Regions from separate parts of the Homo sapiens genome. Here regions 1 and 2 are each linked to region 3. The links come from fine-mapping of genetic effects on gene expression. A gene starts in region 3. Each other region holds a variant in brackets. All regions are shown on one strand. Distances are from middle to middle.

What was found. PIP is the estimated chance that this variant, and not a neighbour inherited with it, causes the effect.
Region 1: its variant is the best candidate, but not a certain one, in a credible set for the expression of AADAT in prefrontal cortex (ROSMAP, PIP 0.68).
Region 2: its variant is the best candidate, but not a certain one, in a credible set for the expression of AADAT in tibial artery (GTEx, PIP 0.68).

What each region holds. Positions count from the first base shown.
Region 1 is chr4:170,139,401-170,142,166 of GRCh38, reverse strand. No RefSeq gene overlaps it. Among named protein-coding and RNA genes, the nearest start is that of AADAT, 51 kb to the right of the region's middle. The variant C/A (reference allele first, on the strand shown) is at 1,205.
Region 2 is chr4:170,065,002-170,067,767 of GRCh38, reverse strand. AADAT (aminoadipate aminotransferase) reads left to right here. Exons shown (of 13, transcript NM_016228.4): 9 at 380-441; 10 at 1,290-1,354. It overlaps LOC107986326 (a long non-coding RNA gene), which reads right to left. Exons shown (of 2, transcript XR_001741918.2): 2 at 1,062-1,396. Among named protein-coding and RNA genes, the nearest start is that of AADAT, 24 kb to the left of the region's middle. The variant G/T (reference allele first, on the strand shown) is at 1,565.
Region 3 is chr4:170,088,857-170,091,622 of GRCh38, reverse strand. AADAT (aminoadipate aminotransferase) reads left to right here and starts at 1,667. Exons shown (of 13, transcript NM_016228.4): 1 at 1,667-1,999. The coding sequence starts at 1,933. RefSeq lists an enhancer at 1-251 and a silencer at 2,151-2,445.

The DNA of each region.
Region 1 (2,766 bases), 51 kb before region 3:
AAGTAAAAAATTACTCTTGGATACAGTTTTTGTTTTGTTTTGTTTTGTTTTGTTTTGAGACAGAGTCTCACTCTGTCATCCAGGCTGGAGTGCATTGGTGAAATCTCGGTTCACTGCAACTTTCACCTCCCAGGTTCAAGTGATTCTCTGTCTCAGCCTCCCAAGTAGCTGGGATTACAGGTGCTCGCCACCACGCCCGGCTAATTTTTTTGTATTTTTAGTAGAGACAGGGTTTCACCATGTTGACCAGGCTGCTCTTGAACTCCCGACCTCAGGTGATCCACCTGCCTCGGCCTTCCAAAGTGCTGGGATTACAGGCATGAGTCACTGCACCCGGCTGCAGAAAACCTCTTTTAAACATTCCTATGGATAACCCTAAACACTGCAGTGGATTCACGAAAAATATTATAGAATGAAAGAACTGTATCATTACTTCCCCTCATGCAACCGGTTCCAAAACTGTTACCTAATGCAGGTAAACAAATTCAATGCTGAATTCACTTTGAGTGATAAAGGGAGAAAGAAAGTCAATGGATGGATAGGGTGGTTTTGTTTGGTGATCTTAAAAGTGTGTGACTATCCTCATGAATAAAAAGGCTGACAAATGTAGCCAATATGTCACACTGTAGACAGGCTATTCTTAGCTGGAATCATGAAAGTTTAAGATATTCTTGCTCATGAAGACTTCTCTGTCTAGTTATTTTCAGAATAAATAAGGCTGCCTTAAGCCTGTCAATGTCAAAAATACAGTTTCCAAAGAGACAAAATGAAAGTTCAGGATTCAGGCTGTTGCTATTTTAATGATCTTGATAAGCTGATCTAGAACTCACAGAGAGAGATTTATGCCTTACCTATTTAACCATGTCTCACTGTAATACCAAATATTGTGTTTTGAACTATTATATTCTGTTACGTTTTTGCTTGTTTTTGTTTTGTCATACTTCTAATGTTAAGATTCAACAATGCTGTTAAACAGAAAAACCTTAGACCAAATTTAAATTTAACTGACTTTATTTGAGCAGAGGAAAGCAAAGCAAAGTAAAAACAGAATGAAAATGATTCACAAATCAGGCAGTCCTCTGAACCAGGGCAGGTTCAGAGAACTCCAACTAATAACATGATCTGACAGCATTTATAGGAAACAGAAGTACGGTGTACAGAAAACTGAATTGGATACAGCTTCATTGGTTAACTGGCTACGGAG[C/A]GTCCTGCAGTAACTAAAGCTCAGCTCCTGGAGTTCAACTTTATGTTGGTTTGGTCTGTCAGGCCTAGTGCAGGAACCTAGTTTATTTTGGTTAACAATACTAAAGTTATATATATATATATATATATATTATATATATAGTGCTTAATGTTTATCTCTATCACACTTCTTTTAGAGTTTGGTTCATCTTTCTATCATGTTAGGACCGCTTTCATCTGATTCTGTCATTTAGGGTTTTTTTTCATGAACCCTCTTAACTCTGTGTCATCCACATGTTTGGTGAGTGTGTCCTTCATATCTTTATCCAAATCCCTGATGAACGTATTGAACAGAATACGGGCCACAACAAGGCTCTGATATTTACCAGCAGAAAACATATCAGATTAGCAATGTGTGGTTCAATGTTCAGCCAGAAACTCATCAAGCTAATAGTATTACGATCCAACCCATAATTCTTCCTCTGTGTGATATCATATAACATCAACAAAAGACTTTACAGATGATATTGGACTTTTTCAAGAAATTAAGAAAGTAATCTTTTTGTTTCACACATAAACCAATGAACTCAGAAGTCAGAAATGTATTAAAACAGAGTTGAGCCCTACCTTAAGAGTAAAGGGACTTACAAAACCTTATTTGCATTTACTGTCTCAAGTAGGGAAATACTTACCCCAATGTATTCCCCTCCTGACCTGACACTTTATCATGGACCCATAGTATCCATTCTGCCCCATAAACAGGAATCAGACATAAGGAATCAAGTCTTATTCATCTCTATTTAGTCTACAATGCCTAGCATAGAATTTCATACACGATACTGTGGAGTTTACTTCATGACTTTCTTAGGTTAGGATGGTCCTAGCAAAACAGAAACTTCTGCCACACTGCTCATCCCATTAGAAGTCCAGTGGTCACTCGAGTTTACTATTTCATATGGTATTGCAGAAAGGAAACCTAGACATAGGTTTGCCAAAATATGTGTCATGCTCAAGGCATGGCGCAGAACACAGATTCCCCCATAACCAGATGATGAGGTAATTGGCTGATAATATCTCTGGGTGTAGGCAGGGATGTTGCTACTACTAGGCAGTCAATATCTTAGTCATTGATACTAGCTGTTATTGACTTTGAATGAAGCACGATCCTCCATTTAATAAAAATAATGACTATTTAATGAGGACAGCTGGCCCAGCTAGGTCATCCCTGAGCCACAGGTTTGGACACAAAGAATACACCCATTCCAGGTCATCAACCACGCTCAGACCTCTCAGGGGCATGAATACAGGCTCTCCCTAGCCAAGTCCATCCTTTTGCTGACTTCGTCCCCTCTTTAGTAGTCTCTTCCTGCTCTGCCCAAACTCTCATTATCCCTTCCATGCAAAAGACCTCATTCTCATTCTGCTTCTTTTCTCACAATAGAACTCAATGTGGCCTCCTTCCCCTGACAAACATTAGAAGCAACACAGAATGTATTTATCCTTTTCTAAGAGAGAGATCTTATATTTTTAGAAAAATTATCCTATCTATACACTCCAGTGGATAAACGATATCCTTTATATGTG
Region 2 (2,766 bases), 24 kb after region 3:
CAGTATGGCAATTAACAGCGCGGGTCAGGAGCTGGATAGCCTGACTGATTTCAGGCTGTGGGACTCAGAAAAGTTAACTTAACCCTTGTGCCTCATTAGTAAAATAGAAATTTATAGAGATTACATTTGGTAAAATATATTAGTATCTTACAACAGTGCCTGCTACATAACAAATAGTATATCAATATTTGTTATTTTTACTAGTATTATCATTGTTATTAATTGACATTTGTTTTAAATCACTGACTATATAAGCTAGGCTCAGCTTGTTATATCTTATTGTGGTTTACATGTAATCAAAAGTGAGTTGCTTTTATATATGGCAAAAAGTACATTTTCAGGGGATGAAACATGGTATTTATGATTTTATCTCTTTTAGCTCATGATATCACAGCTTCTACACGAATGGGGAGAAGAAGGTTTCATGGCTCATGTAGACAGGTATTGTATCATTTCTTTAAATATTTATGAACAAAACAGGAGCCCAGTGAACATAGTACAGATCACCTACAGTATTGATTTATTCTTCCTTCCTAAGTATCCTCGGAAAGGAGAGACAATAGGAACGGTCTATTATAAGTCAAAAGTCTATTCATTTTGTTAGTTCTTCACCTAGCAAGTCTTCTCAGCATCCAAGGTGTGGTTTGAAAGCAGTGTCCACCCACTCCTAAGGTAGTCCAAAATTCCCACCAGGTTAAGATTTACTTACTTAAATGATGTAATGGGTAAACTTCATACATATAAATATTTTATTTAATAATGATTAATTGTGAAGGATACATGACACGGGATTTGGCTCAAGTAAAGATGAAGGTGAACATAATTTCCCTAAATAGTCTGTATATTGGTACAAGTTATGGATTACTTTAGCTGTGTAAATATGGTACCTCCTAGGACATTTAGAAATAAGGAGGAATGGGGTATTCGCATTCCCAGACCGGTGATTCATTATTTCAATAGTATTGTCTTTTATCCTGAGTGATGAGAACCAGTATTTAGACAACTAAACACAAAGATTGATCCTGCTACTTCTAGGTTCCATATTTTACATAGAAATGGACTTCTCTTTATGAATTTTTATTTTGTAATTATTCTACAATGAAGGAAAAAACACAGCAGTTAAAAGTTTTTCACCAGACAAGTGAAACAAATATGCTCCATTCTTCTATCAAGCATTCAACATTTTAATCAAGATAGAAAACAAATTCTTATAGCCTGGACTCTGGAGACTGTTTTGCTTCTGCAATCAATGTACTGAGCACATCCATTTCATTGTTTTCTTTTTCTAGGGTTATTGATTTCTATAGTAACCAGAAGGATGCAATACTGGCAGCTGCAGACAAGTGGTTAACTGGTGAGTGGAACGTATATTCGTCCTCATGATAAACAGTAGCATCTGTAAAAGTAGGGGATAAACACTGAATATTACTAACAATCCTGGTGGAAAAGAAACAGTCCAGGAGTATTCTTGCCAAGGAAACATTACACCATAAATCATCTCAGAAGCAACATTTGATAAACCTGGGCACAGACCTTCCTATCCACTTTACCTGTCTGCTGCAAA[G/T]AATTTGTGATTAAAAAAAAAAAGATCTAAAAATCAATCACTAACTTACTTAAAGCTTAATAATATCTATTTTCAAAAATTTTAGTTATTTCAGAATTTTACCCCAAAGGGTAAAATTGTCAAACCATGCTTCTCTAACTAAGCTGTACAAAGGCAGATGTCTTACTGACAAATTATTTGCCTTCTAATCATTAACCTCATTTATCTCTGTAGTATTATCTATTGCTAACTTGATTGCAAAATGTTTTAGATTCTTTTTTTATTATGAAGGTCAAATTAATCATATGGCTTTAATTATATTATTAAAATGCCTTTGATATAAATAATAGTAAACCAAAAATAGCAATTCCTTATTTCTGTCCTATCTTATTTTCTATAAAGTCTTGGTAAAAACAGAATTAGTGGCTGAGTGCAGTGGCTCATGCCTGTAATCCCAGCACTTTGGGAGGCCAAGGTGGGTGGATCACCTGAGGTCAGGAGTTCCAGACCAGCCTGGCCAACATGGTGAAACCCCATCTCTACTAAAAATATAAAAATTAGCTGGGCGTGATGGCGGGCACCTGTAATCTCAGCTACTTCGGAGGCTAAGGCAGGAGAATCACTTGAACCTGGAAGGCAGAGGTGGCAGTGAGCCAAGATCATGCCATTGCACTCCAGCCTGGGTGAGGCAAAACTCCATCCAAAAAAAAAAAAACAGAATTAGTATCTTTCTGACAATAGCATTATTTTACCACTTTGCATAATAGTACTGAAGAAAAACTTTGAATCAACAGCAAGTTCTTTTTTTAAAAAGATAGTAATTTAAATCAAAGATCATTATGCTTGTTTTTGATTTCTCTATCCTAATACTCAATGAAACGTAAAGCCCACAACTGCTTCTGGAATTCTTGAATTTTAAGTATTTCTTTTCATAATTAATTACATTCTGATAAAAACGCTAATCCACTGGACATCTAAACTATTACAAGAATACTAGGATTTGTTGTAATGCTGGAAGAATCCACAAATAATGGAAGAATCCTCTTCTAAATTGAAATAGCCATGTTTGTCTAGGTATGGTTCTAAGTGAAGGAGAGAGGAGTGGGATTTCTTGCACTACCCTAAGACTGACTACATTGTAAATACGCACACGCGAGCTATTCACTTGCCCACCCTACCCCTCCCTTCTTCCCTCACCCACAGTAACTCTTTGAAATAAAACC
Region 3 (2,766 bases):
GTGAGCCCGCACTCCTCAGCCCTTGGGCGGTAAATGGGACCGGGTGCTGTGGAGCAGGGGGCGGCACTCGTCAGGGAGGCTCGGGCAGCGCAGGAGCCCACGGGTGGGTGGTGGGGAGGCTCAGGCATGGCTGGCTGCGGGTCCGAGTCCCACCCCGCTGGGAGGCAGCTGAGGCCTGGCGAGAATTCGAAGGTAGCGCCGGTGAGCCGGCATTGCTGGGAGACTGGGCACACCCTCCGCAGCTGCTGGCCCGGGTGCTAAGCCCCTCACTACCCGGGTCTGGCGGAGCCGGCCCGCCGCTCTGAGTGCCGGCCCGCCAAGCCCACGCCCACCCGGAACTCTAGCTGGCTCGCAAGCGCCCGCACAGCCCTGGTTCCCGCCCGTGCCTCTCCCTACACACCTCCCCGCAGGCTGAGGGAGCCGGCTCCGGCCTCCGCTATCCCAGGAAGGGGCTCCCACAGTGCAGCGGCGGGCTGAAGGGCCCCTCAAGCGCGGTCAGAGTGAGCGCTGAGGCCGAGGAGGCGCCAAGAGTGAGCGAGGGCTGCGAGGGCTGCCAGCAGGCTGTCACCTCTCAATACTTCCTTTTTGTTATTTAGCTGCTAGCACAAAGATTTTACTGGGTTATCTCAGCCTTTTGCTGCCAGGACCTAGATAAAAGCAGTGGCTCCTTGACCAACCTATTAGGTAAACTTAAAAGAGAGCCATTTGGCAGTGAGTCAATAATCATCTAGGAAGTACTCAGTAAATTTGTGCTGAATGAATGAATCTGTTCATTCATTTTAATAACCATTAAAGAATTTTTTAAAGTCAAAGAGAGGTTGTCTGAAACCCTTCCCTCATTAAGTGCTCACATTAAACCTTGTACATTCCATTTTGGTGATTCAGGAAGGAGAAATTGCAGAAAAGTTGAGGGAGGTGGGGAGTAAGAAGGGTTATTTTGTAAGAAAAAAAAAGGCAAGGTGCTAGACCCAAAAAGATCCGGATATTCACTTCCAACATAATTCTTATTTAACGAAAGGTCAGAAATTCAATGTGAGGGTAGACACTAAAATTGAAGAGACTCAGAGTGATTTTTCAAAAATTTTTGTCAGAACTCCATCGTCACTCCAAAATGCTGAGATCTTCGAGAAAGTGATGTTGAAATTCGTCTTGGTCGCCGGGATGCTTCCCAGGAGAGTGCCCAGAGTTTCACTAACGAAAGATGGGTATTTAGCATAGCCATGGTCTGAGCGGGCAAAATGCACAGTCCCAGTGACTGAGAGGAGGCCAGCGGAGCGCGCGGGAACGAGGGTGGGGCCGCTCCCGGCTGGGCGCAGCTCGGGAGCCCCCTGCAGTGGACCCAAGTCGCCGCCAGATGGTTCCCGAGGATTAGGATCACGGGCACTTCCGGTCCCCTCGGTCAGCCCCTGGGCTAGCCTCTGGGCCGGCGCCTAGGCCGGCCAACGCGGACGCCGGGTTGCGGTGATTCCCAGCGGCGAGGTCAAGAGTCATTGGCCTGGGGCTGCAAGCGCCTCGCGCCTGGGCTACCCCGCGCCCTGCGCTCTGAGGGCGATGATCCGGGACGGGGAGGCGCGCGCCGCGGGCGGCCATAGGCCACGGCGCGGGGCGGGAGGGGGCGCGGCGAGGCCCGCGGCGGGGCAAAACCGGCCTGGGCCCTGGCGGCCGCAGGAGCGCGTGCGGCGTGGACTTTGCCGGGCTCGCCACACAGCCCCAGACCCGTTTAGGACCGGGAGACCGAACGCAGCGTCCAGCCGGGGAGTTTCGGCGGCGTTCTCCGGGCACCGCGCGCGGGAAGCCAGACGCAGCGGGGGGACACATCTCGCGGTGGCGTTGCCAGAGTGAGGAGTTAGCAGGCAGGACTTGACGAGGCTCTTTGGTTTTTCTAGTCCTCAACCACTGAAGAAGAAGCTTGATGCTTGGCTGTCAGAAGACATGAATTACGCACGGTTCATCACGGCAGCGAGCGCAGCCAGAAACCCTTCTCCCATCCGGACCATGAGTGAGAAACGGGGTGACCATCTCTCCTTTGGGGTGGGGCATTCCTCGCACAGCCTCTAAGGAGGGTTCCCTAGCAAGCCACCGCTTGGTTGCATCCATGCGTACCCCTGTGCACGCTCGCGGTGAGCCAGGCTCTGCGTGCAGAAATGAAATAGACACAGCCTTTGTTCTCAAAGAACTCGGGCTGAAACGGAAGGCGGGTATTTCTGCTGGAGCAGAGTAGGAGCAACAGTAGAGAGAGGCGCAGACTGCTGTGGGGCACGGCCTTGGAAGGGAGGGGGCGTGCTATCAAGAAAGGCTCTTCCTGGGAAGCTGAGAAGGGGCATGCACAGCGTGCAGATGGGTGTACAGTGGAGAGGGCCAGGTAAATGGGAGAGGGGTGGGCCATGAAGCTCACAGACAGGTCGGGGCTAAGTGGAGGAGGGCTTCTGCTATTGTGGCCCTTTGCTGTCTTTCTGATCCCTCTGCCTTCTCTTTGGTCACCTTCATTCTTTAGTCCCTCCACAAGTGAGGTGCCTAGAAAAAGTTATTCTGTATGTTTATTTTAGACTAGCTTTTGTCTTAGTCCATTCAGGCTGCTATAACAAAATACCACAAACTGGGTAATTTATGAACAATAGAATTATTTCTCACAGTTCTGGAAGCTAGGAAGTCTAAGATCAAAGTGCCAGCAGCTTCTGTGTCACCATGGTGAGAGCCCTTCCTTATAGACAGAGCCATCTTGCTGCATCCTCACGTGGTAGAAGGGAGAACCTATGTCCTCACGTG